3 separate regions of the Homo sapiens genome follow, and all the other regions are linked to region 2. The links come from fine-mapping of genetic effects on gene expression. A gene starts in region 2. Each other region holds a variant in brackets. All regions are shown on one strand. Distances are from middle to middle.

Region 1 (10,560 bases), 24 kb after region 2:
GAGTTTTTTTTTTTTTTTTTTGAGACCGAGTTTCACTCTTGTTGCTCAGGCTGGAGTGCAATGGCATGATCTCGGCTCACTGCAACCTCCGCCTCTGGGGTTCAAACGATTCTCCTGCCTCAGCCTCCCGAGTAGCTGGGATTACAGGCATGCGCCACCACCTCTGACTAATTTTTGTATTTTTAGTAGAGACGGGGTTTCTCCCTGTTGGTCAGGCTGGTCTCGAACTCCCGACCTCAGCTGATCCACCAGCCTCGGCCTCCCAAACTGCTGGGATTACAGGCGTGAGCCACCTCTCGCCTGAGAATCTTGATACTGCTGTGTTATTGATTGCTCCACCCCTAAAGAGATGTAGTTATTCATGGGAGAAAATACCTCATAATTTTCCCTGATGATAGCAATTCCATAGAGACACCAAAAGAATCTAAATTATGGCCGGGCGAGGTGGCTCATCCCTGTAATCCCAGCACTTTGGGAGGCCGAGGCGGGCGGATCACGAGGTCAGGAGATCGAGACCATCCTGGCTAACACGGTGCAACCCCGTCTCTACTAAACACACACACACACACACACACACACACACACACACTAGCCGGGCGTGGTGGTGGGCGCCTGTAGTCCCAGCTACTCAGGAGGCTGAGGCAGGAGAATGGCGTGAACCCAGGAGGCTTCAGCCTCCCGAGTAGCTGGGACTACAGGCACGCACCACAACACCCAGCTAATTTTTGTATTTTTAGTAGAGACGGGGTTTCACCATGTTGGCCAGGATGGTCTCCATCTCCTGACCTTGTAATCCACCCGCCTCAGCCTCCCAAAGTGCTGAGATTACAAGCGTGAGCCACCGTGCCTGGCCGCAGTTACTATTTCTTTTGTGATTGATATATATGAATATTGTGCAATGAAATTCCCTCCCAATTGAATTATCTTTCCCTAAAAATAAACCCAAGCTTTCTGGAACATATTGAATTTCCTATTTAACAAGTTTTAAGGATATCTTAGGTGTTTCTGGGATTAGTATTTATTTTCAGGATCTTTTGCATTTACTTGTGAGAAATGGCATTGAGATAAAAATGTGTGGGCTCAAGGTGGTCATGGTTATTTCTACGGAGTCAATTCACAATCTCTAGACCTGTCCGGTGGAAAATAACAGAAATATATGTGCTTAAAATAAAATATACCATGATGCAATGTTGATTGTTCCAAAAATTATAGTTTTTAAAAATTCTTCAAGTTAGCATTTGTACTGTGCTGAAGGCCTTGTTACCAATTGTATTGTAGCGTTTTTTTAATTTCTTTTTTTTTTTTTTTTGAGACAGAGTCTCGCTCTGTCGCCCAGGCTGGAGGGCAATGGTTTGATTTCAGCTCACTGCAACCTCTGCCTCCCAGGTTCAAGCGATTCTCCTGCCTCAGCCTCCCGAGTAGCTGGGACTAGCACGCGCCGCCATGCCCGGCTAATTTTTGTATTATTAGTATTTTGTATTATTAGTAGAGACAGGGTTTCACCATGTTGGCCAGGATGGTCTCCATCTTGGCCTCCCGAAGTGCTGGAATTACAGGTGTGAGCCACTGCACCCGGCCTAAAATTTGTTTCAATGCATCAATAACAATGGTGTTTACTAAAATATTAGTGTGGAAAAGGTTTTATGGTGTATTATTTTTGCTTTTCATATCTCCAGGCTACTTAATTGAAGGTTTTATTGAAATAAGTGTAGACTCACAAGCAGTCATAAGAAATAATACAGAAAAAGCCCTGTCCATATTACCCAGGGTTCCGTCATGATTACATTTTGCAAACTATAGTATAATATCACTCTAATGATATTGACTCTTCTGTGTTCTGTTTTTATATATTTCCCTAGTTTTGCTTGTATTTACTTGTTGCATGTGTGTAAGCCCTGAGTTTTATAGGTTTGATTTGTGGATCTGTTGTGCGGTTGAGCCCTCATTCATTCACCTGCTTCTCTGCAGTTGGACACACAAGCAATTGCCTTTGCACGAACAGGGACAATCTTAATTTCTGTTTAAGATGAGAAAATATGGTTGGAGACACATTAAAACTTCTGTCTCCACTGATGACAAGATACTTCTTTCTGCTTTTTTATTCTACTGATTCTTCAGACCTCAATGAAAATCAACATCCCCTAGATTTTGATGAAATGGCTTTTGGAAAAGTAAAATCAGGGATTAGCTTCCTCATTCAGACTGGAGTTGGGATCCTGGGAAATTCCTTTCTCCTTTGTTTTTATAACTTAATTTTGTTCACTGGACACAAGCTGAGACCCACGGACTTGATTCTCAGCCAACTGGCCTTGGCTAACTCCATGGTCCTTTTCTTTAAAGGGATACCTCAGACAATGGCAGCTTTTGGATTGAAATATTTGCTGAATGACACTGGATGTAAGTTTGTCTTTTATTATCACAGGGTGGGCACAAGAGTTTCCCTCAGCACCATCTGCCTTCTCAATGGATTCCAAGCCATTAAGCTCAACCCCAGTATATGCAGGTGGATGGAGATCAAGATTAGATCCCCAAGGTTTATTGACTTCTGTTGTCTCCTCTGCTGGGCCCCCCATGTCTTGATGAATGCATCTGTTCTTCTATTAGTGAATGGCCCACTGAATAGCAAAAACAGTAGTGCAAAAAACAATTATGGATACTGTTCTTACAAAGCATCAAAGAGATTTAGCTCATTACATGCAGTCTTATATTTTTCCCCTGATTTTATGAGTTTGGGCTTCATGGTCTGGGCCAGTGGCTCCATGGTCTTCTTCCTCTACAGACACAAGCAGCAAGTCCAACACAATCACAGCAACAGACTCTCCTGCAGACCTTCCCAGGAAGCCAGAGCCACACACACCATCATGGTCCTGGTGAGCTCCTTTTTTGTTTTCTATTCAGTCCATAGTTTTCTGACAATTTGGACAACTGTAGTTGCAAACCCAGGCCAGTGGATAGTGACCAACTCTGTGTTGGTCGCCTCATGTTTCCCAGCACGCAGCCCTTTTGTCCTCATCATGAGTGATACTCATATCTCTCAGTTCTGTTTTGCCTGCAGGACAAGGAAAACACTCTTTCCTAATCTGGTTGTCATGCCATGAGTCTTTTCTCTTCATGGAATTCAGCTATTTATCATAACTCTTGCTAAGATTTAGGAAATATTAACTACTAGTTATTTGTGATAGCAACATACACATGGCCAGTAATGCTCTTGTCCAGGAAGATCTAATACCAGAGCTAAAAATGAAAGTCATGGATACTGTTACACAAAGAACACTCTATATAACTGTGTTAAGTCCTTCAGACAAGTTCAGGAAATCAAAAAGTTTAAAAAGGGAATTCTTTAGAGATTTAGGGGAGATTTCTCATTTTTGTACTATGAAGAATCATGGAATGTTTTAAAAATATTTTTAAAGCACAGTTTGATTCAGGTGCTTCTTGAACAGCATAAATCCCCTGGAGAGTCCACATGTAAGAAAGACATGTGCAGGCCGGGCACAGTGGCTCACGCCTGTAATCCCACCGTTTTGGGAGGCTGAGGCACTCCCAAATGCCTCAAGTGATCCACTCAAGATGACTTGAGGCCAGGAGTTCGAGACCAGCCTGGCCAACATGGCAAAAACCCTGTCTCAAATACAAAAATTAGCCAACCATGTGGCACACACCTGTAGTCCCAGCTACTCCAGAGGGTGAAGCACGAGAATTACTTACCAGCTTGGGTGACGGAGGGAGACTCAAAATAAAAATAAAAATAACTAAAAGTGGCTGGGCACCGTGGGTCACGCCGGTAACCCCAGCACTTTGAGAGGCTGAGGTGGGCAGATCACTTGAAGTCAGGAGTTCAAGACCAGCCTGGCCAACATGGTGAAACCCCATCTCTATTAAAAATACAAAAATTAGCCAGACATGGTGGCAGGTGCCTGTAATCCCAGCTACTCAGGAGACTGAGGCAGGAGAATCCTTGAACCCAGTAGGCAGAGGTTGCAGTGAGTCGAGATCCCACCACTGCACTCCAGCCTGGGAGACAGGGCAAGACGCCGTCTCAAAAAAAAAAAAAAAAAAGAAAGAAAGAAAGTGCTTCTGCACTCCAGCCTGGACAATAGAGCAAGACTATCTAAAAAAAAAAAAATTAAAAATCAATATCAAAATAAATGAGTATTCTCATAAGCAAGACAAGCCTAAAGAAATGTGAGTACTAACTGTAATGTGGTTACATTTAGAGACACATGAAAAAAAATAAATAAAAGAATAAAAAATAATAAAATAAATGCAATGTGGTATCCTAGGTGGAATTCTGGAACAGAACATGTATTTTGGTAAAAACTGAGGAAATCTCAATCAAAGATGTACTTTAGTTTAATAATGTATCAAAACTGTTTCACTAATTGTAAATAATGCTGTATACTAATATATGACTATATATTAGTAACAACTAGGTGTGCTTGTAAATGAGATATCTCTGTACTATATTTGCAATTTCTCTGTACATCTTAAAATGTTCTAAAATTAAAACTCTATTAAAATAGAAAAATAAGATTTTTTTTTAAAAAAAGGGAAAAGATTTAGAAATTTGGCCAAATATACAGATAACAAATAAGCATATAAAAACTTATTCAGCATCATTAATTATTAGAGAAATGCAAATTTAAAAACCACACTGACCACAACACATCTATGAAAATGGTTAATCTTTAAAATACACCATAACCATCATGGACAAGGAGGTATAACAAATGCAATTCTGCTAAATATATTCATATAAACACTTGTATATGAATGTTCATGGGTCTTTGTTAGTTTTTTAGTCCAACACTAGAAACAATCAAAATATTTATTAATAGATTAATAAATTGTGGTATATTCAATGCAATACTCTTCATCAACAAAAAATGAATACGCTTAACATGTATAAATATCAAAAAATGCTCCATATGAATGTAATGTAGGATTTCATTTGTATAAGATACTAGAAAATTTATAGGCCGGGCATGGTGGCTCACGCCTGTAATCCCAACACTTTGGGAGGCCAAGGCAGGTGGATCACTTGAGGTCAGGCGTTCGAGACCAGCCTGGCCAACATGGAGAAACCCCCGTCTCTACTAAAAATACAAAATTAGCCAGGCGTGGTGGCGCATGCCTGTAATCCTAGCTACTCAGGAGGCTGAGGCAGGAGAATCGCTTGAACCCAGAAGGTGGAGGTTGCGGTGAGCTGAGATCGTGCCATTGCACTCCAGCCTGGGCAACAAGAGTGAAATTCTGAGAAAGAGAAAGAAGAGAAGAGAGGAGAGGAGAGGAGGAGGAGAGGAGGAGAGGAGAGGAGAAGAGAAGGAGGGAGGGAAAGAAACAAAGAAAAAAGAAAAGAAAAAAGGAAAAAGAAAAGAGCAGGAGGGAGGGAGGAAGGAAGGAAGGAAAGATGTATATAGTGACATAAAGTAAACCAGTGGCTACCTGAGCATAAAAATTTGGGTAGGACTGTGAGCGAGAGAGAATAGAAAAGGGTACAAACAAACTATTGAGGCAATGGATATGTTTATTATCATGACTTTGGTGATTGTTTTTATATATTTTACACTTTAACAATGTGCAACTGAATGTCACTAATACCTCAATAAAGCTGTTAGAAAAGAAAAATTCCAAATAAAATCTGGATTTCTCAATCCTCTTTTATAACCTCTGGCAAAGCTGTGTTGATTCCATCATTAGCCTCTCCTCATGTCTTACGTGGGTCAACTCTGATTTTATAGTATCAAAAACTGGAAGCAATGTTGTTGGAAATTCAGAATCTCGGGGAAGAAGAACTGGAGACAAGGAAGGTTATGTCCACCTGAGTCACCAGGAATTATGTTTAGGTTTAAAAAAAAAAAAGACTTATCTCAGAAGTATAGAATCTCCCTTCATTCAGTCATGAGGCTCCTACCTGTGCAGTAGTGGTTTGAATTAACAGG[C/G]TTTATGTCTGTGTCTGTCTTCCACTACTATAGCAAAACACCACAGATTGCGTAATTTATAAAGTAGTTTGTTTCATACAGTTCTGGAGGCTGGGAAGTCCAAGGGTATGGCACTGGTATCTGCTTGGCATCTGGTGAGGGCCTTGTTACTCTGTCATAATATGACAGAAGGGCAAGTGAGCATGAAAGACAGAGACAGCTGATTTTATAAAAACGTCACTCTCGGGTTAACAAACCCACTCTTATGATAAAGGCATTGATTCCTTTATAAGGGCAGAGCCATCATGACCTAATCACCTCTTAAAGGTCCCATTTCTCCACACTGTTAAAATGGCAATTAAAATTCAACATACGTTTTATAACGCCAGAGACACAAGAATCCATAACACCTTTGGATTACTTGCTCTGACAATGACTTTGCCTACAGGAGATACACACGTCTGTAGGTCCTCAGAGTTTCTGTATACCCTCATCTCACATAGCCATAGTTACTGAAACATTCATGGATGTCTCTTTACAAGGCGCTCATCCATTCCACTCTAGTTTGCTGGTGTCTCATACTTCATATTAATACAATCACTGTTTCTGTACAGACTATGGTTCCCAAACTGCTTGCTATGGTTTGACCATCTCCTCCAAAAGTCACATTGAAGCTTAATCTACAGTGTGGTAGTACTGAGAGGTGCGACCTTTAAGAGGTGATTGAATCATGAGGGCTCTATCCTCAGGAATGAATTAATCAATTTATGGGTTGATAGACTAATGGGTTATCCTGGGAGAACTGGTGGTTTTATAAGAAGAGAAAGGGCCAGGGGCCGTGGCTCTTGCCTGTAATCCCAGCACTTTGGGGGGCCAAGGCGGGCAGATCACCTGAGGTCAGGAGTTCGAGACCAGCCTGATCAACATGGGAGAAACCCTGCTCTACTAAAAATAAAAACTTAGCGGGGTGTGGTGGCACATGCCTGTAATCCCAGCTACTCAAGAGGCTGAGACAGAAGAATTGCTTGAACCCGGGAGGCAGAGGTTGCGGTGAGCCAACCCAGGAAGCGGAGGTGCAGTGAGCCAAGATCGCGCCATTGCACTCCAGCCTGGGCGATAAGAGCGAAACTCCGTCTCAAAAAAAAAAAAAAAAAAGAGAGAGAATGATTTGCGCTAGCACGTTAACATGTGAGCACACTCAGCAGCCTCACCATGTGATGCCCTGTACCACCTTGGGACTTTTTGCACAGTCTACCAGCAAGAAGGCTCTTACCAAATGCGGCCACTCAACCTTGGACCTTTCAACCTCCATAACTGTAAGAAATAGATTTTTCTTTATAAATAACCCAGTTTCAGGTATTATTTTATAAGCAATGGACAACAAACTAATGCACTCTTACATTTTACATCCAGGAACATAACCTACATCATTTTTGGGTTCAAGACACATAGCTCATAAGGCACATCACAGGAGCAAGCTATCCCTAAACAATACTGGAGAATATGGGACATGCATGGGTACAAATACCCAGCTCTCACAGCTGCCATAAATCCTGACAGTTGTCAAACCAATTGTCCTGGCTGCAAGCTGACTGTGCAACCATAAATAATCTTCAAATTCAGGGTAAAGGATTTTGGATAGAAATCCTTCTTTTTCCCAGGAACCTTCTGAAGCAATATACATCAGGCGTTTGTGGATTGAGTTGTTTTTTTTTTTTTTTTTTTGGTTTTTTTGTTTTTGCTATTTCCTTGGAAGTACATAAAATTGAAAACCTCACAAAACCACTCACTTTTTCATTTTGGCAGACTCCAATTTTGCTCTCAACCCACAGCACACAGAGAATAAAACTGCAATGAGTAAATGTAGCTTAAACAATGACTTTATCATCACTAAAACCAGTATAGTCACGTGGAAATTGACTGGGTTTGGGCAGCTTGGAAGGTGAAAAATCTATCACCAACATTATAAGACAAGCAATAATACCCATGAAGAAAGGAAAATCTTTACAAGCTGCCAGCTCAAGCCAGCCTGTATCCTCTGTCCAAAGTTGGATGATGTCTGCACCCAAACCAGCCATGGAAGTGGGAATGAGGCCTCGCCCGAAGGGATCAGACTCAATAACTCCAGATAAAGGTAGAGAGCACAGCTATCTGCCCTCCCTAAGCATTTTAAGGTGATACACACTGTGATATCAGCTAATAGTGGATGGAAGTCTTTTGTAGTACACACTTTCAGTGACTTAACACTGGCAAGGATCCCAGGCAGGTCAGAAAGTGCAAGGTAATTCACAAAAGCTTCTCATATAGCAGACAATTACAACAAACCTCCCTTGTGTGGATGTTTGGATGTAAGATTCCATTTCTGGTTGAGGTCTCCCTCACAAAAGCTAATATCCACAGCTTTACTATTTTATCTGCTGGCAAAAGCACTTTGCCTGCCTGCATTCCTAAGGTCTTTCTCCAAGATGGTTTACTGGTGCTGAATGAGGTTAATGGCTGAAGACTTTCCAACATTCGCTGCACTCATGATACCCTTCTGGGTATGTAGTTTTAAGATTTAGAAGTTTTCTTGATGTCAGGACATGACATGACAGATAGATGAAAGGTGGAGCATGTTGTAACTTACAACTCAGAACCAGAGGACATGATTCAGGGCTGCACCGGAGTTGTGAAGGAATATAGATAGTAATACAGCAAACTGGAGTTGTAGGAGGCAGCTTGTGTGTGGCAAGTGGATTCGGGTTAGCTAGATTTTCTGGGCTTTCTATACTTGGCCAATTTGAGTAATTTTACACATTTCAGGGCATAGGAGTTGTCCCCAGATGTCTGATACCTGCTCCTGGGGTGACTGGGGCTGATATATATTGACCCAGAGTTTGACAGCCTGTTAAGGAAAGTGGTTGGAAGTGTACTTAATCAGCTGTTCCAAATGTAGCACTGTCAAGCCTCTAGCAAGGGCCTCAACAGTGGACAGAAACATTATTCTTTTAAAAGAATTATGTATCAAAACACCTTGGTACTAGCACAAATGCATACATATAGTGGAATAAAGAGGCCAGACGGAAGTCCTCATACTTATGCTCAGATTTTTGACAAGAGCGCAAAAACTTATTAAGGAGTCTTTTCAACAAATGACTTTCAAAAAGCTGGATATCTATATGCAAAAGAATGAAGTTGAACTCTTACCTTCCTCCATTTACTAAAACAAACTGAAATAAATCAGACATAAAAGTACAACTTAAAACTATAAAACTCCTAGAAAATAACATGAAAAAAGGTTCATGACACTGGATTTAGCAATAATTTCTTGGGTATAATACCAAAAGCATAGGAAACAAACATAACATATATTGGACTCCATTGAAATTTGAAAACTCCTGTGCAAAAAAAAAAAAAAAAGACATGAACAGAATGAAAAGGAAGCAGACTGAATGGTAGACAGTATTTGAAAAACACATATCTGCAAGGGGTTAATATTTAAAATACGTATACAGAATATGTACATATATAATACGTACATGTTAACCACTCAACAAAGTATATATACTTCACATCATGTTGTACACAACAAAAGCATACAATGTTATCTGAAAATTTACAAAAACTTTCTTCAATGGGCAAAGACATTTAACAGATATTTCTCCAAAGAACCTATACAATTAGTCAACAAGCAAATGAAAAGATGCTCAACACCAATACTGAAATGCAAATTAAAAAACCATAATAAAATAACATCTTACACCCATCATGATTAAAAAACAAAGTGTTGGCAATAATGTGAAAAACTAGAACCCCTGCACTGGTGAGAATGTAAAATGGTGCAGCTGCTATGGAAAATAATTCCCCCCACAATTTAAAATAGAATTAACGGGAAGTGGCCAGGCGTGGTGGCTCACGCCTGTAATCCCAGCACTTTGGGAGGCTGAGGCGGATGGATCACAAAGTCAGGAAGATCAAGACCATCCTGGCTAACACGGTGAAACCCCGTCTCTACTAAAAATACAAAAAATTAGCCGGGCGTGGTGGCGGGCACCTGTAGTCCCAGCTACTTGGGAGGCTGAGGCAGGAGAATGGCGTGAACCCGGGAGGCGGAGCTTGCAGTGAGCCGAGATTGTGCCACTGAACTCCAGCCTGGGTGACAGAGCAAGACTCCGTCTCAAAATAATAATAATAATTATTATTATTATAATTATTATTATTAACGGGAAGCACCATTTCCACTTCTGGGTATATGTCCAAGAAGAATTTAAAGCAGGGCCTCAGGAGGTATTTGTATATTCATGCTCATAGTGGCATTAACAAGAACAGAAGAGTGGAAGCAACCCAAATGTACACTGAAGAAAGAATACAGGAAAAGTGGCATATACATATACCACAGTCATATGCCACACATTTCTGTCTACCATGGACCACATGTATAACAGTAATCCCGTATTATAACAGAGCTAAACAACTCCTATCACCTAGTGCCACCACAGCCACTGTAACTCAATCCCATTACTCAAGTGTGTGTGGTGACACTGGTGTAAACAAACCTACTGGTCTGCCAGTCATATAAAGAGCACAGGCCGGGCGCTGTGGCTCATGCCTGTAATCCCAGCACTTTGGGAGGCCGAGATGGGCGGATCATGAGGTCAGG
Region 2 (10,560 bases):
TATTAGTATTATTATTAATTATTATTCCACATTGGAGAATAATATATATATTATTCTACATTGGAGAATTATATACACACACACACACAAACACACACGTATATATTTGAGACAGGGTCTCCTTCTGTTGCCTAAGCTGGAGTGCAGTGGTGCCATCCTAGCTCACCACAACCTCCACCTCCCAGGATCAAGGAATCCTCCCACCTCAGCCTCCTAAGTAGCTAGGACCACAGGTGCAAGCCACCATACCTGGCTAGTTTTTTTTTTTTTTTGCGGAGACGAGTTTTGCCATGTTGCCCAGGCTAGTCTTGAACTCCTGAGCTCAAGCCATCTACCTGCCTAGGCCTTCCAAAGTTCTGGGATTACAGGCATGAGCCATCACATCCAGCCTGCATAACAATATGGAATAGGCACTTCGGGTTTGTTAGCATGAACTTTTGGTAAATTTTAATTTACAAATGACATTCACAAAAATTAACATGTAGTTGTACAGCTCAATGAATATTCCCAAAGTCAACACATCTCTAAAAGCAGTGTGCCAATCAAAAAAGAACAGTGTTAGTATACCAGCATTTCTTTTTTTTTTTCTTTTTTGAGACAGAGTCCCACTCTGTCACCAGGCTGGAGCGCAGTGGTGCAATCTCAGCTCACCGCAACCTCCGCCTCCCAGGTTCAAGCGATTCCCCTGCCTCAGCCTCCCGAGTAGCTGGGACTACAGGCACGCACCACTATGCCCGGCTAATTTTTTGTATTTTTAGTAGAGACGGGGTTTCACCATGTTGCCCAGGATGGTCTCGATCTCCTGACCTCGTGATCTGCCCACCTAGGCCTCCCAAAGTACTGGATTACAGGTGTGAGTCACTGCGCCCAGCCATACCAGCATTTCTGTAACCCCCGCTGTAAGTCATTCACCCATCAAGGAGGTCTAATTTGTGGCATGTCTGATTTCTTACATTGTCATCTAACATAGTTTTGCCTATTTTTCAGTTTGCATTCATTTGAATCTGGTAAATGCTCATCCACCTCCTTCATTAGAATTCTGTCAGGATGATTACTAGAATTTAGAGCTGTATGTACTGCATATGGCTTAGAATATATGTCTGATGAGAAATGACTCACAAGGATGTGTGGATAGCAGTACAATTATTGTTTTTTTAAAAAGACTGTGCAATGTGCAATGGCCCATCCTTCATTGAGCCTTAGGGCTTCTGTGAAGTCCTGCTCCTTTTGTTTTTTAGCTTGGCTTCCGTCTTGGGATTGAGACAACAAGGATGTTCTAGTTTCAAAGCACAGGAAAACAAAATCATTGGCTTTAAATGGAATAGGAATTATATGAGATTTTTATTTGAGAATTCTTTTTAAAAAAATTTTGAGAATTCCTAATTGAACACCATCCATCTGCATATTGGATTAAACAGTTACTCTAAATGTACCAAGATTGCACTCTCACATAAATGGCACATGGCTATGCTCTCTCTGCTGGGAAGTGGACTCAGACCCTCACTGAGCTTTCATGTTCCATGAAGTGTGAAGGGCAGCACCAAATCGATAACATGGTTGTGAATCTCCTGTTCGCTGGCCTAGGTCTGCAAGGAAATGATTTTAGTTCTTGCTGTAAAGGAGAGAGGAGGAAGAGAATGTGGATTGAGTCAGGGGCATTACAGGAGTCCTCTGCTGAGGAAGAAATCCTAGGGGCTGGACAGTAGCAATGAGCCTGACAAAAAAGACAACATAGAAATTACTGGTGGGACCACTGAAAATGCAGGACAGGTTATAACCCTAAACCATGTTATAACACTAAAGTTTGGAGGGAAGCCCTTCCCCCTCTAGCCACCAACATGCTTCTGATTCTCCCAAATAGAACCTGATTTGTGTTGAAGTCATCTTCTGCATGATATGTGGAGAATGAACTAAAGTAGAGAAAAAACTGATGTAGGATACAAGGCAGAAGGCATTGTGTAGCTCAGGAATGTTGGCAGATTGGCCCAAGGGCATGAAATTGGAGGTGTTGAGAAGAAGATGACCTGAGACATATTAGGAGGCAGAGGTAACAGGATATGTGGGTGGTTGGGATGATACGGTGAGGCTCAGGCAATAACATTTCACCTATCAAACCCTCTGTATTTGTGGGCCAGCAGGACTTTTCCTGTTTTGATTCTTGATTGGCATCCAAGGAACCCACGTTTAGGGAATAAATGAAGCTGAAGGTTCATGTTTCTGTGGTGAAGAAAAGGCAAGACACATTCTTGTCCTCATGTCAGCTGCCTGGGACATTGAATTTTTCATAGCCTTGTTTGTCTAACATAGAAAGGGCTCTGAACCTACCCAGATAGATGACCTAGGGTAGGAGGCCATGCTGGGAAGTAGTTAGTCATGGCTCCTTGGACTCCATTGCCAACTATGCCACTTAACAGCTACAGCTGAAAATAAATTATAGACCCAAGAAACCTCAGTTTCCTCATATTAATTTAGGTGACAAATCCACTTTACAGGGCAAAAGTGCGTAGTGTTTATAAAAGGTCTGATAGAATGTCTAGGATATGGACATTATTAAATGTAAATTATTGTCATCCTTATCCCACCCCTGTATGAATAACCAGAAGATGCTGATGATATGCAGTTCCCTGATGACATCTCAGCCCAGTTGGGTGAGTCAAGGGCCTGGTAACCTTCAAGCGTAGGTCTTGGTTTCTCTAAAGCAGATTTTGGACGTTTCTAACTACAACATGATTCTTTTCTTACTGACAGAGTAGGGAGTCTGGGAATGTTAGTTGTGCTTTCAATCACAATTCAAATTCTGTGGAAATTCACTGAAGAAAAGAGAATACCTCGTGAAGCGTGTTTTGGTCCATCAAAAATTACTAACTGCTTATTTGAGTATTTATTGCATAGTCATTTAGGTTTTGCAAAAGTTGTCAAAACCAAAATGAGTAACTTGTGTAAAATAAATAAATAAGTAAATAAATAAATAAAGCCAGGAGGCTGAGAAAAGAGGGCACTCAAACACACATGCTTAAGATAAGAGCTATTACTGTCTCTGAGGGCTCTTAATGCACATATTCCCGTTAAAAGAAGTTTTGACAAGAACTTCTCAAACCGCAGCTTGCTACAGGAGTTACAAGGACAGCTCTAGATGTAGTAGAACACTTGCCTGACAGATTGTCTCCACTAATGAACTGGTGTTAACCTCTGCCATAAACATCTGTGACCAATGTTCTTTTTATCTCAAAACAAATTATATATACTTTTCCCTTTTGCCTTTGAAAGCTTCTCCTTGTTTCAAGCTCTCTGGATATGCCTATAGTCCCTATAGCCTGCATGTCCTGGATTTGCAAATCCCCTGTGCATTCCTGAATGAACTCAACATCTTTGAAGAATCTCTGTTATTTAGGTTGACAGTTTAAATATATCCTACATTGTGCTTTTCTTTGCCTCACTTCTTCCACTTATTTTACTATTATTTTACCTTTCTATTGATTATTTATTTATATTCCAAACATTTCCTCTTCTAGTTTGAAAAGTATATACGCTGACTGTATTTATTATATTTAGGCTAAAAATTACAAACGTTTAACACATTAGCGTGCCATACAGGATTGTAATACATTTGCTTTCCACTTGGAAATATAAAAAATTTAAAACTTTGAGCAACTAGCCTCCTTTCAATTTATATGTAGTTGAGGTTACGCACGGGAATTCCATCATTCTAACTCAATAAGTATATCTACTTATGTTTTACACTGTAATATGCTGTTATTTTAATCAAAAGATGCACTTCTTTTCATCTTCATTTCTTCTCTCATTGCAGACTTTTCACCTGAGATCAACTTTCTTTGGCCTTGAGTATTATTTTAAACATTATTTTTTGTGTAAATGTATTTCCATTACATTTATCATTTTTGGTTTCAAATAGTTTTATATCACACTTCCATAAAAGACATTTTGTTGTGTATAGACATCTAGTTTGGTGGTTATTTCTTCTTTACAGAAAGTGTTCATGTTGCCCTTTTCATTGCCATATGACATTTGATGAATTCTGTCTTTTCAGACACTTGTAAAACACTTAAAATATTGAATACATCTCTGTATATGGAGTATGAAATACTATCTTGAACAAGAGTATTACTTGTTGGGTTTGACACAATCACTGCTGTATAAGCAGGATAAATATTTTCTGAGGTAACAGACAGAAGGGTTATTCACTTACTTCAAGGCCACCAAACATCCCCACTCCACGTTCCACATCATGGTGTCTGGAGTCTTTTCTTTCTTGTGCCTGACAGAAAATGCTGAGGCTCGCCAAACTAACTCTGGAGCATCAGGCTACACGCATTTGAAAACAATATTTGTTAACTTCCAGCCATAGAAATCTGAGTGACGTCAGTGTATGGTGTGTCCATTTTATTTTTTGATGAGCATTCTCTGCGTAAGGAAGGCTGAAATCATGTCTCTAAACATTCCTTTGATGTCAAACACGACGTTCACCAGAAATACAGATATGGCTCCTTCAAGAGGAAGCTAAGCTCCGTCTGGGCCTTGGAGACGAGGGACACCATTTCCACGCGCCCCTGGCGGTCTTCTCTGGGCTTTTAACCTGGAGGTGAAGCGAGACGCCGCTTACTAGTGTTGGTGCCGTGGGAACTACATTACCCAGGAAACTTGGCGGCTCTGGGCCAATGAAAACCCAGGAAATAGGCGTTTCCGTTGGTCCTCACCAACGTCAGGGCGGGACTTCCTCTACCATCCTCGGGTGGACATTTTGTTTGCTTTTCCATTAATCCACTGGTTTAGTTTCCAGAACGCAATGTCAGACCTGAGGTGACAGAAAAGGGAAAACGTGAGAGAGTGTCTTCTTCCCTGAAGAGAGGTGGGCCTGAGGCTTGACAGTGGCGCTGCCTGAGTGACCTAGCCGCTGGGCTGGGCCCTGGACAGCTGATCCCAGGTTCCTGCACTTGTCGCCACCCTTCCGTAGTCCACAGGCCTGATGGCGGCGGCTGAGCCGATGGGCCCGGCACAGGTGGGTGCTGCGTCTGCGAGTCTGCGCGCTGACCCCCATCTCTGAATCCCAAAGCTTCGAATGAACGATTCCTCGGGTTACTGCAGCTCAGGCCCCTGTATCTAGAACAGTGGGGGCGCTCGTGTTTGGGACCCATTTTGACAGCACGAGTTGAAGGACGTTCCAGGCAGAGAGACCAGTGTATGCAAAGGCTCAGAGATGGTTCACAGCTGGAGCATTTGGGAAAACTGGGCCTTTAGTGTCTGAAAGGATCAGAGCGCTTTATAAGTGATTGCACCTGGAATATCATCCTGAGCAGCTGGGTCTCTATTCTGAGGGTGATGGGAGCCATGGAAGGTTCTGAACAGAGGAGAGCCAGAATCCGAGGGTTTAAAAAGTATTCCATAGACTGCTCATGGAGGGCAGACTCTTGTTGGCCATGGGGGCGGATAATGAGCACTGTTCCGAGCTAACACAGTTAAGAGGTATCCTTGAAGATGGAAGCACAGAGGGTAGACATTCAGCTCCCAGGCACATTGTAACTGGGTAGGAATATGGGATGGGGTTGAGCCTTTGGGGTTCCTTCAAGATTGCTTGACTCGCATAGTCTCCCTCTTCCCCACAGGTTCCCATGAACTCAGAAGTAATTGTGGACCCTATACAGGTGAGGGGAGAATGTCCATGCTCTCACCGATCCCACCCCCACCCAATACGCTCTCCAGCATTGTGGTGTTATATAGAACACTCTCCTGCTACTCTCCGATCTCTTGGGTCTGAGGACTCTGGAGAAGCCCCAAGCCCAGGGTCCTGACTCCGGGCCAGGGGTTTTATGGAGGGGTTTCCATTTCTGCCAACCATTGGAATAAGGTTGGAAGGTTGTTCCAGGCACAGGAACCAGCCTGTGCAAAATACTTAGAGGTGAGACTGAGAAGGGAGTTTTCAAGAAATTGCAGGTCTCTGTCATGTCTGGTGGGAACCAAGAGCAAGGGGGCGGGAATCATCCTGAAATGGCTTAAAGATGATTATGTAGATTGGGAGTTAAAAGAGAATATTCATTTCACAGTGGTAGTGCATTTAGTGAGCCAGGAAAGTGATGGTGGAGAGCCAGAGTTGTGAGATAACTGTGATCCAAAGAGTGATGTACATATGGAAAGAAGTGTAGACTGATGACGTCTGGGCTTAAAGGAGAAAGGCAAGCCCATCTTTGGTTGTCTGGTAAGCATGATGTTAGTGACCCCAGAGGAATTTGCTTACAGAAGGGTGAGGCCCTGTATGCTAAGCACAGAGCTTAGAGGGTGACAACTTCTTCACCTGCCTGTGGTTGCTATGGGTAGACACAGTGATCCATTGGGACCATGAGGCGAGAGAAGACACCAATGACATCTGGTCCTGATATTTCCTGAGTTGAGGAGTTAGGTAGGAGGGTGTACAGGAGGGAGATGTGTGGGGGCACGGATGGGGGTTCTTGGGAGAGATGCTGCTCATGGACTTGGCTCTCCTGATTGTGGCAGGGGCAGGTGAACTTTGAGGACGTGTTCGTGTACTTCTCCCAGGAGGAGTGGGTGCTCCTTGATGAGGCTCAGAGGCTCCTGTACCGTGATGTGATGCTGGAGAACTTTGCACTTATGGCCTCTCTGGGTAAGGCCGTCACATCCACCCCAGTGACTTGGACTGGGTCCTGCCCTTCCCCTTTTTTTCAGGGCATCTTTGTCCTTCCTACATCAGAGCCGTGGACACTGTCTCATTTCTTAGTGCCTGGAGTAGGTTCTGTGAGTGCTGGGCTTGGGCTGTTTGCACTCCTACTTTCTCCTTTTGAGCATTCCCAGCGCTTGCTGTCTCAGAGCCTTGCAGGCATGGATTCAGGAGTTATGCATTGTATTGTCAGCCCAGTGGGTCATATCCATCTTGTCCTTTCCCTGTCTGAATTCCTCTGTCTGTATCCATGACACCTCTGTGCCTGGGATTCTGCGCTCTTCCTTTAGCTGACATTTCCTGTGGCCTGCCTATGTCAGGAATTGTAGGGACCATTATGGTCGCTACTTGCTAGGACCACTGCACTATTCCTGCAAGACCTTACTCTGAGATTATTTTAATAATATTTAGTTTTCTATATGGGTTACCCAGACCAGTGCTGTTCTATCTTTCCCTTAGGACATACATCTTTCATGTCCCACATAGTTGCCTCACTGGTGATGGGTAGTGAGCCCTGGGTACCTGACTGGGTGGACATGACCCTAGCTGTTGCCACAGAGACTCCAGGTGGGAGTGACCCTGGTGAGTAGGAGCTGGGGAAAGGTGTGATGTCAGGGCTGGGTTCATATCATTCCATAGCCTCTTTGTGCCTACAGTTGTATTAGTGCTAAGGCCACTGGCCTTTCATACTCTGGCCTTTGGCCTCTGGATGTTCCATACCTCTGCCTTCATGTCTCACCTGTTCCTCTCCATGGCTTGTTCTACAGTGCCTTCCAGCATTGGCCTGTACTTAGTGTTTCATGAGATGTGTAGCCCAAATAGTCCTTAAACACCAACTACTGAGTAGCAATTTGATTTTCTTTGGTATGGACCATAACCTTCTGCACAACTCTCACCTGTCCCCAGCAGCCAAGAAAATCTGATTGTGAATGACTTTGAGACCTGCCTCTTTTTTGTGCTGTACCCCACATCTTTGTCCTCTCCCAGTTGAGGCCTTCTCCATTCTATGACATTTAGATGCCAACTACCGTATAGTACACATTTGCTGAACTTGAGTTTGGACCCTTGTCCTAACAACAGTCCTATGACCTTGGTCTTAGTTGTGTTAGACACATATTTGTAGTGAGGCTTCCCCTCTTCCACCTGTGTCAATTTGTACTTCACCAGCATTTCTCTGCTTTCAGGTTGTTGGCATGGAATGGAGGATGAAGAGATACCTTTTGAGCAGAGCTTTTCTATAGGAATGTCACAGATCAGGATTCCCAAGGGAGGTCCTTCTACTCAGAAGGCTTACCCCTGTGGGACATGTGGCCTGGTCTTAAAAGACATTTTGCACTTGGCTGAGCACCAGGAAACACACCCAGGGCAGAAACCATACATGTGTGTGCTGTGTGGGAAACAGTTCTGCTTCAGTGCAAACCTTCACCAGCACCAGAAGCAGCACAGTGGAGAGAAACCCTTTAGAAGTGATAAGAGCAGGCCCTTTCTTCTGAACAACTGTGCTGTGCAATCAATGGAGATGTCTTTTGTGACAGGGGAGGCTTGTAAGGACTTCCTAGCCAGCTCAAGCATTTTCGAGCACCATGCCCCTCACAATGAGTGGAAGCCACACAGCAACACCAAGTGTGAGGAGGCCTCTCACTGTGGAAAAAGGCATTACAAATGCAGTGAATGTGGGAAAACCTTCAGCCGCAAAGACTCACTTGTTCAACACCAGAGAGTCCACACTGGAGAAAGGCCTTATGAGTGCGGTGAATGTGGGAAAACCTTTAGCCGCAAACCCATACTTGCTCAGCACCAGAGAATCCACACTGGAGAAATGCCTTATGAGTGTGGCATATGTGGGAAAGTTTTTAATCATAGCTCTAACCTTATTGTACATCAAAGAGTACACACTGGAGCAAGGCCTTACAAGTGCAGTGAATGTGGGAAAGCCTATAGTCACAAATCTACACTTGTTCAGCATGAGAGTATCCATACTGGAGAAAGGCCATATGAGTGCAGCGAATGTGGAAAATACTTTGGTCACAAATACAGACTCATTAAACATTGGAGTGTTCATACTGGAGCAAGGCCTTATGAGTGCATCGCATGTGGGAAGTTCTTTAGCCAAAGCTCTGACCTTATTGCACATCAAAGAGTTCATAATGGTGAAAAGCCTTATGTGTGCAGTGAATGTGGAAAAGCCTTTAGCCACAAACATGTACTTGTTCAGCATCATAGAATTCACACTGGAGAAAGGCCATATAAGTGCAGTGAATGTGGGAAGGCCTTCAGGCAGAGGGCTTCCCTCATCCGCCACTGGAAAATTCACACTGGAGAAAGGCCTTAGGATGGGAGATAATTCCGTTTCCTTGTTCAACATAATAACTGACATCAGAGAGAAGCTCCAAGCATAGCCTTTATGTGTAGCCGACAGCCAGAAGTAGAACTTTATACACTCAAACACTCACCCTGGGGAGGTTCTTCCGAGTGCCAGCTATATGGGAAGCCTTCTGGAGCTATGCTGAATTTTCTAGACTCTTGCTGGAATTTCGTCAAGGCAGTGCCTGTTAGAAGCCATCTGTCTTTGTGCTGGAAGAGTCCTGCCTTGTGCCAAAGTAACCCCAATGTGTTTCAAAAGACAGACCTCTGTACTATTCCCTTCCCTGGAGGGAATCATCAGTAGCCTGAGGCCATCAAGGATTCTCACTTTTTTTCTGCCCCACTACTGGTTTAAGCATGAGCATGACCCAGTTTTAGCCAGAAAAATGGGAGCTTTGTTCTGCTGACCACTGGCAGAGGTTTCCCTTCATGGATATAGTTGATCTCACATGGCACTTGGGACGAATTTTTCTAGCCTTCAAGACACCTGACCTGAAATTGGCTGCCTCATATTCTGGTTTTGCAACAAATGCCTTAATTTTTAGACTATCTGAAATCTTGAGGATTCTGTTCGCTTTGTGGGTTGGGTTGAGAACAGAATTGAGCTAAGCCAGTATGAAGGGAAGAACAGCTTTTGTGAGAGCTCCAACTATCTGTATCTCTGAAGTGATAGTAGGATGGCAAAGACTAGCTCTTATGCTAGTGTCAAGCTAACTTACTTGACTGCTTCAGCTCTCCTAGGAAAGAATGCCAGTCTTTGTAGGCCTAATCTTTTGGTCTATATGTTAAGATTTTTTGTGTAATTGAGGTCACCCTAAGCAGTGGGCATTTGTTGTGATAATCTCTAATGTGTCTGGGAGCAACATGAATTACGTCCCTTGTTCCCAGAAGATACTTCATATTCCCAAGGCTTCTTGAGGAGAATTTGAACTCAGTGGACATGTCAAGATCTCTGAAGTCTATTTTTCAGTAGGCAGTTGATATTGGCTGTCCTCCAGAAGGCCCAGGTAGGAATCATAGTTGGTGCAGAAACCCAGATTAATAAAGGAATGAGAAAACTGCAGCAAACTATAGGGAATATGACCCTTCTAAAGGTACATCCACATGTGTTTCCATTACTCTGGCTCCATTATGAGGGTTTACAGAAATATTTCCATACCTGTGTCTCTTATGGCTAAGGTTACTGTCCAGAAGTCAGTCTAAACATTTTTGCAATAAACTGCACATATTTATAGTGTACCATTTGATAAGTTTTGATACATGTTGGCACTTCTCAAACCAAAAGTTTCCTGATTCCTTTTATATTTTCTCCCTTTCCTTCACCCATCCCCAGGCAACTATTGATCCGTTGTCACTGTAGATTTGTTTGTATTTCCTAGAATTCTACAGAGATAGAGTAATTTAATATGTATTCTAATGTTTTTGGCTTCTTAAACTCTGAAATTAAGGCTCATGGTGGTGTTCTGTGTTTCATAGTTCATTTCTTTTCATTTGTACTTTGCTAAGAG
Region 3 (8,342 bases), 34 kb after region 2:
AGAGGTTGCAGTGAGCCGAGATTGTGCCACTGCACTCCAGCCTGGCAACAGTGCGAGACTCTGTCTCAAAAAAAAAAAAAAAAAAAAAGTGTGAGGCAAGGCTTCAGAAAATATTCCAGAATATTGTTATCATAGGAGATAACAACTCCCTGTTATTGAGCCTGAAAACCTTCTAGTGGGACAAGATGTGGAGGCAAAAGACAGTGATATTAATGATCCTCACCCTCTGTAGGCCTTGACTAATGTGTGTGTCTGTGTCTTCATTTTTAACTTATTTTTTACGAAGTTAAAAAATTAAATAGAAAAAGTTTATAGAATATAAAGGAGTACTTCTATACAGGCTGTATAATGTGTTTGTGTTTTAAGCTATTATTACAAAAGAGTCAAAAAGCTTTTTAAAATTTTAAAAGTTCATGAAGTAAAAACGTTACAGTAGACTAAGGTTAATTTATTACTAAAGAAAAAATTAATTTAGAGTAGCCTAAGTGTACAATGTTTATAACATCTACAATAGGGTACAGTAATGTCCTAGAGCTTCACATTCACTCACAACTCACTCCCTGACTCAACCAGAGGGGTCCCGCAAGCTTCGTTCATGTTAGTGCCCTATAAAGTTTTTACCATTTTTCATACATTTTTACAGTACCTTTTGGAAACTTAGATATGTTTAGATACACATTTACTTATCATTGTGTTTCAATTACCTACAATATTCAATACTGTAACATGCTGTTAAGGTTTATATCTGAGGCGCAATGGACCATATCATATAGCCTAGGTGCGTAATAGGCTGTGCCCTTCAGGTTTGTGTAAGTACACTCTTTGTTCACACAATGACAAAATCACCTTAAGATGATTACTCAGAACACAGTCCTCTTGTTAGGCGACACATGACTACAATGGGATTTTATTCGGCCTTTAAAAAAGATGAAAATCATAAGCTATGCTACAACATGGATAAACCTTGAAGACATTTAGGGAAATAAGCCTCAAAATAAGTCACAAAAGACTAAAACTTAAGTTTCCTCATATGAGATATTTATAGTAAAATTCATACAGTAGTATTGTCAGGGGCTGGTTGGCGTAGGGAATGAGGAAGAGGAGTAGTTTAAAGCAGCGGTCCCCAACCTCTTTGGCACCAGGGACTGGTTTCATGGAAGCCAATTTTTCCACGCATCAGGGACAGAGGAGGGGGCAGACAGTTTCAGAATAAAACTGTCCCACCTCAGATCATCAGGTATTAGTTAGATTCTCATAAGGAGCACACAACCTAGATCCCTCACAGGCACAGTTCACAATAGGGCTCAGGCTGCTATGAGAATCTAATGCTGCTCATCTGACAGGAGGTGAAGCTCAGGTAGTGATGCTGGCCCGGTTCCTAACAGGCCACAGACTGGTACCAGTTTGCAGCCTGGGGGTTGTGGACCCCTGGTTTAAAGGGTATAATGTTTTAGTTTCATTAAGTTGAAAAAACTTCTGGATATTAATTGACAACAATGCGAATGACTTAACACTACTGAACAGTACAGTTAAATATGGGTTAAGATGGTAGATTTTAAGTTACCTGTAATTTGCCACAATTATAATTTTTTTCTTTTTGAGACAGAGTCTCGCCCTGTCACCCAGGCTGGAGTGCAATGGAACAATCTCAGTTCACTGCAACCTCCGCCTCCCAGGTTCAAGTGATGCTCCCTGCCTCAGTCCCCTGAATAGCTGGGATTACAGGCACCTGCCACCATGCCCAGCTAATTTTTGTATTTTTAGTAGAGATGGGGCTTCACCATGTTGGCCCGGCTGGTCTCAAACTCCTGACCTCAGGTGATCCACCCACCTCTGCCTCCCAAAGTGCTGGGATTACAGGCGTGAGCCACCACGCCTGGACATAAATGTTTTTAATGTAGTTCCCAGCAGGAAATCCTCGCAGATTTCCATCTGAACTCTTTCAACATTAGATTTACATATATTAATAGGTTCTTGGTCCGATGTGAACCTTTTGGTGCTGAATGAGGTGACAGTTTTGGTGACTTTCCTGCATTCACTCCACTAAGGCCTTTTTCCAGTATGAATTATCTGATGTTTAATGAGGCTGGAGTTGTATTTAAACACTTTGCTGGATTCACCACACTCATAAGACCTTTCTCCAGTGTGAGTTTTTTGGCGCTGACCAGTATTACATTTGTTGAAGTCTTTCCCACATTCCCTTAACTTAAAAGGACTTTCTCCAGTGTGAGACTGCTGATGTATAATAAGGCTCGATTTAGTCCTAAACAATTCCCTACATTTACTGCACTCATGAGGCTTCTCCCCAGTGCAAACTTTATGATGTTTAATGAATGTAGAGCGGTATCTAAGAAACTTCCCACAGTTGCTGCATTCATAAGGCTTTTCTCCAGTATGAACTCTCTGATGAATAATGAGTTTGTAGCTATCTCTAAAAAATTTCCCACATTCACTACACTCATAAGGTCTTTCTCCAGTGTGAACTTTCTGATGTCTACTCAGTGTACAGCGATATCTAAAGAATTTCCCACATTTGCTGCATTTATAAGGCTTTTCTCCAGTGTGAATTCTCTGATGAATAACAAGTTTGTAGCTGTCCAAAAAGAATTTCCCACATTCATTGCATTCATAACGCCGTTCTCCAGTCTGGATTTTCTGGTGACCATCTAGATGAGCCTGTGTAAGGAAGGCCTTCCCACATTCACTACACACATAAGGCCTTGGCCTGAGGTCAATCCTCTTGTGTTGAATGAGGTCAGACCTTTTTGAAAATGCATCAGTGTGGATTTTCTCATGCTGAACTAGGTGGGACTTTCTAACAAAGGCCTTCGCACATTGAGTGCATTCATAAGGCCGTTCTCCAGTATGGATTTTCTGGTGACCAACCAGATGAGCCTGTGTAAGGAAGGCCTTCCCACATTCACTGCATGTATAAGGCCTTGGCCTAATGTCAATCCTCTTGTGTTGAATGAGGTCAGACCTTTTTGAAAATGCATCAGTGTGGATTTTCTGGTGCTGAACTAGGTGGGACTTTCTAACAAAGGCCTTCTCACATTCAGTGCACTCATAAGGCCGTTCTCCAGTATGAATTTTCAGATGCTGAACAACATTATGTTTGAGGCTAAAGGCTTTCCCACATTCGCTACACTTATAAAGCCTTTTGCCAGCATGAACTCTCTGGTGCATATTGAGTGTGGAGCGGTGACTAAAGAATTTTCCACATATGCTGCATTCAAAAGGCCTTTCTCCAGTATGAACTCTCTGATGTCTACCGAGTGTGAAGCTGTCCATAAACAATTTCCCACATTCACTGCACTCGTAACGCCTCTCCCCAGTGTGAACTTTCTGATGTCTGATGAGTTTGGAGTTATACATAAAAAACTTCCCACACTTGTTGCATTCATAGGGCTGTTCTCCAGTATGGGTTTTCTGGTGACCAACCAGATGAGCCTGTGTAAGAAAGGCCTTCCCACACTGGGTGCATTCATAAGGTGTTGGTCTACTGAGAATCTCCTGATGTTCAATGGGGTCAGACCTTTTTGAAAGAAAGCCTTCACTGTGAATTTTCTGGTGCTGAACTAGGTTGGACTTTCTAATAAAGGTCTTTCCATATTCAGTGCCCTCATAAGGCCTTTCTCCAGCATGATTTTGC[T/C]GATATTTAATAAGGTTGGAGTTGTACCTAAACAATTCCCCACATTCACTGAACTCATAAGGCCTCTCCCCATTATGGGTTTTTTGGTGCTCAAACAGCCCATGTTGGTGGCAAAAGTCTTTCCCACCTTGGCTGGAGTTGAAATCATTCTGTTCACCTTGAAAGGCTTCCCCATCCTGGGTATCCCTGTACAGCTTCCACCCACTGTTTAAGACCTGTTGCTGGAGAAGGTCTGAGCTGGCAGTAAAATCCTTGCCACCCTGCGTGCATGTGAAGTTCCTCTCTCCCACGTGAGCACTGTGGTTCACAAATGAAGGCCTCCACTCATCACTTCTGGTGAGCTTCTCTCTAATCTGCTCCTTTTGGTGCAGGTCATGCTCTGCTGCACATGTGTACAGCCCTTGCTCAGGGTGTGTTCCATCGTGCTCAGCCAGGTGCAGAATGTCCTTCAGAATTGAGCTACACATCTTGCAGGGCTGGGCCTTCAGGGTGGACAAAGCTGGCTTTGGAATTGTGACCTGTAACACTCTTACAGAAACACACTGCTTGGAAGGTACCTCCTCATCCTTGGCTCCATGCCAACAACCTGTAAGAACAGAAATGCTGGTGAAGTGCACGTGAACTCCGGAGGGAGGAGACAGCCCCATCACAAATGTCTGTGAGACACACCCACAAATGAGGGCACAGGACTGGTCACAGGCAAGGAAATAAGGCCAGTGAGAGGAAGGCCCAGTGTTCAGAGGTGGGCCTGTGAAGTGTGTGTAGTGGGGGAATCCTGGTGGTAAGGACACAAGGGAGAAGTACCATGCAGGGAGGGCAGGTGGGGTCTCCAACTCACTCCTCTATAAATGGCTTTCAACAGGCCATGACGGTTGTGTCCAGATCCAGAGAGATCTGATTGTGTGAGAGCGAGTATTCATGGACTACTGAAGGATACACGCAGACCTCATAACACCTAAAGTACAGGTCATACATTAGACAGCACTGCAAAGGGAGAGGTGGAAGAGAATGGTGGAGAGATGAAGGCTGGAGAGGAGGGGTCAGAGGTGGAAGCCAGGGGTCAGAAGTCAGAGTAAAAATAACAACAGGGAAGGAAAGGAAGAGTGACGAGTGGCCAGTGGCCCTGCATCAAACAATAGTGGTCACAAGGTAAGTTCTCAATGTGATTTGAACCCAGCCTTGATATCACATCCTTTCCCAGCTTTCACCCACCAGGGCCAAGTCCTTCTGAGTGTCTCTTGCCATTAATAGAGGACTATCCACTCTGCCAGGCACCCAGAGACCTCCCCCTTGCTCAAGGTGAGCAACTATCTAGCTGCGGCATAAGTCCAGCTACGGGAAAGGCAGGGAAAGGGAGGGGACAGCATGTACACAGAGCAATAAACCCAGGACATGCTGCATTCTAAAGCTACCAGAACACCCAGTAGAGCGTCCTGCAGAAATAACTTCACAATCCTCACAAGTGGTGACCAGGGAGGTGCCTGAAATTCCTAGCACAGACACTGTCTCCAAGTATGTCAGCAAGGGGAACAGGGAAACCCTTGGACAGAGGTTTCACACATTTGGACAGAGTAATCAAACCAGGGACAGGCACCGCCATTAGGATATCTTAAAGAAACCTGAAGATTTCTGACTTCCGAGCCTTATCTTGTAAAGTTTCAGAGCAACAGAAGCTGGGGCTGCTTAAGGGGAGGTGGTACAGTATACACAGCCCAGCTCTGGCTGCCTTATCACATTTGCCAGGAAACCAGGAGAGGACAGGACGTAGCACTCACAATCTGGTGTGGGAAAGACAGAGTTGTCATGGAAAAGAGCAAAAAAACAGCACCCAGCACAAGACACCAGAGTAGGTATGAAGGCCTTACCTACTGATGACAAAAGCGCAAAGTTCTCCAACATCACATTGCTGTGCAGGTGTCTCTGAGCATCATTAAGGATCCCCCATTCCTCTTGGGAGAAATATATGGCCACATCCTCAAAGACCATACAATCCTGCCAAAATTATGACACTTCAGTCTATGAACAACTTCTTATTCTGTGTTTCCTTAGATCTGTATTTATCTACTTAAAATCTAAGAATTGGAGGGCCAAACTAACAGCCAATGTTTTTACATTTCCCTTGCGATCCAGATCCCATATGCTGAACCACTATCTAATGCTCATACATGATTATTTCTCCTGTCCTAATCAACACAAGCCCTGTCACCACACAATAAGGGATAATCTCTTAGCCCTAAGGCTGCCAGACTTATGCAAACCACTGAGTTTTAAGCTCCTCATCCCACCCTGCATGCCTTTCCTGCCAAAACCCCAATACAGTCTCTGATATATGCTTTCCCTTCAGTCATGCCTCTGCCTCCTAACCAAATCTAGTATTTCCCGTGGCCTGGTGCAGCACGGCATTCCCCCTGCACTAAGGAAATGAAAGTAATTAAAATTATTTCAATGCCATTAGCCTCTCTGTCATCACTCACTCTTTTCCAAAAATGAAAATCCAGCGGGTCAATCACTGATACACTTCCCTCTCCAGAATCTTCAGTGCTTCCCCAGTACCCACACACATCCATCCCCTGCTTAGCCTCCACCCACTTCCCAAGGAGGAAGAGACTCCACATCCTGGTAGCATTCGCACTTCTCTCGCCCCCACTGCTACTGATTGCTGAGTCCAGCACAGCACAAAGATGGGTGGGGAGAAAGCAAAAGCATCATCAATGCCTAGCCCAGGGCGCCCTACCCTCTTTTTTTTTTTTTTTTTTTTTTTGAGACAAGAGTCTTGCTCTGTCACCCAGGCTGGAGTGCAGTGGCTCACTGCAACTTCTGCCTCCCAGGTTCAAGCAATTCTCCTGCCTCAGCCTCCTGAGTAGCTGGGATTACAGGCACCTGCCACCACTCCCGGCTAATTTTTGTATTTTTAGTAGAGACGGGGTTTCCCCATGTTGGGCAGGCGGGTCTCGAACTCCTGACCTCGTGATCCACCTGCCTTGGTCTCCCAAAGTGCTGGGATTACAGACATGAGCCACTGCGCCCGGCCGGCCCTACCTTCTTTTGTCACCCCATTTCCTTGGGGTCTCCAGATCTTGCCTCCCAGACACCCAAACTCAGGCTCACTCTTCTCCCTTACGTGCCCATTGCCAGGGCTGGGACCACGCATTCATGCTCCTCCTCACCTTCGCATCTCGCTTTGGACAGTACCTCTCTCATGTATCTAATGCCTCCACTCTTGCAATACTAACAGCAGCCCTGGCCCAACCAGGAGCATTTCCATGGCCTCCCAAGATGCCACTCTGTACATGGAGTCCTGCAGTGCACCAGAACCCTATTTGCTCCTGGGCTGCCCAGAATATAATGTTCCCTAGCGCCTGGGGCAGCACCGAGCCCTGTTCTGAAGGTCTCCCTTCCCAGTCCTGTTTTCTGGTTTAACCTCAGCCCCCCCAAAACCCAAGTGACAACCTCACAGTTCTTGCATACCTCCTCTGAGTTCCAGATCTTGGCTGTCTCCCCCTTTTGCAATGTACATGTTTTCCCATAAGCAGTCACAACATTCTCTATCCCCCTAATCCTAATCCAAAGCCCAGATACACTGACCTCCCCAATGCTATCCCCACCCCAGGCCTAGCAATGCTCCTTGCTGATCCCATCTTCCCCTAAAGTAGTCTCACAGTTTGCATGAAACTACCCAGGTCCAAGCAAGACTCACCATGAAACCCTGGTGAGTTTGTGGAGATGCCTCACCATCCATCTCATGGCCACTCTCCCCTCAAAAGCCCTTCCTTATACTCCACAGGCTGCCCCCAACATAACACACAAACATACACACACATACCCTCAGTCGATCCACTCTCTCATCTGTCTTTGTGACACCCACCAACACCATCCAGGTGCCCAGTGGAGACACCCAGTCCTCAGTCTGTTCCTTCTCCTTCCTTCCTACTAACACCATTGCTTCCTAAATCTGACCCAGTTTCACAACAGTTCAGCTATCATGTAGTGGATGTCTCCTTCCTGAACACCTCCAATGAACTCCATTCCTGTGTGTACAACTGCCAGCCTGGCACCTCCACTCAAAGTCTCTGAAACATTTTTTGTGTATTTTTGTTTTTGTTTTGGCTTGGATTTTTGTTTTTGTTTGTCTTACTCTGTTGCCCAGGCTGGAGTGCAGGGGCACAATCATGGCTCACTGCAGCCTTTACTTCCCAGGCTCAGGTGACCCTCCTGCCTCAGCACGCCGATTAGCTGAGACCACAGAGAGACGCCACCACACCCAGCTATTTATTATTATTTGTAGGGACAGAGTCTCCCTATGTTGCCCAGGCTGGCCTCAAGCAATCTTCCCACCTCTGCCTCCCAAAGTGCTGGGATTACAGGTGTGATCCACCATGCCTGGCCACTGGAACATTTTTGACTTGGCCAAAACTTGGTTCCTCATATGCTCTACTATATAAACACTCCCCCTACTACAGAACTTACTACATCTTAGTTGCTGGGACATCCATCCTTCCAAATAAGGCCAAAACTGTGGGGCCATTCCTGACCCCCTCTTCCATCTCAGCTCCCAAGCTTCCTTGCTCTCTACGTTATAAAATACAGGCAGCTCTAGATCAAACACATACAGAAGCCCCCCACTCCTCCCACTTCCACCACCGCCACTCTCGTTCAGTCACCAACAACCTCCACCTGGGCTGTTGCTGGA

Evidence for each region.
Region 1: its variant is fine-mapped to the expression of ZNF772 in whole blood (INTERVAL, PIP 0.95).
Region 3: its variant is fine-mapped to the expression of ZNF772 in whole blood (INTERVAL, PIP above 0.99).

Annotation. Positions count from the first base shown.
Region 1 is chr19:57,447,963-57,458,522 of GRCh38, reverse strand. It overlaps VN1R1 (vomeronasal 1 receptor 1), which reads left to right and starts at 1,383. Exons shown (of 1, transcript NM_020633.4): 1 at 1,383-3,733. The coding sequence starts at 2,037. The coding sequence ends at 3,098. The variant C/G (reference allele first, on the strand shown) is at 5,943.
Region 2 is chr19:57,471,734-57,482,293 of GRCh38, reverse strand. It overlaps ZNF772 (zinc finger protein 772), which reads left to right and starts at 4,728. Exons shown (of 4, transcript NM_001144068.2): 1 at 4,728-5,017; 2 at 5,622-5,660; 3 at 6,508-6,634; 4 at 7,873-10,560. The coding sequence starts at 4,985. The coding sequence ends at 9,020. RefSeq lists enhancers at 4,214-5,413, 5,004-5,527.
Region 3 is chr19:57,439,187-57,447,528 of GRCh38, reverse strand. ZNF749 (zinc finger protein 749) reads right to left here. Exons shown (of 3, transcript NM_001023561.4): 2 at 5,518-5,644; 3 at 428-4,238. The coding sequence ends at 2,044. Among named protein-coding and RNA genes, the nearest start is that of ZNF749, 8.0 kb to the right of the region's middle. The variant T/C (reference allele first, on the strand shown) is at 3,653.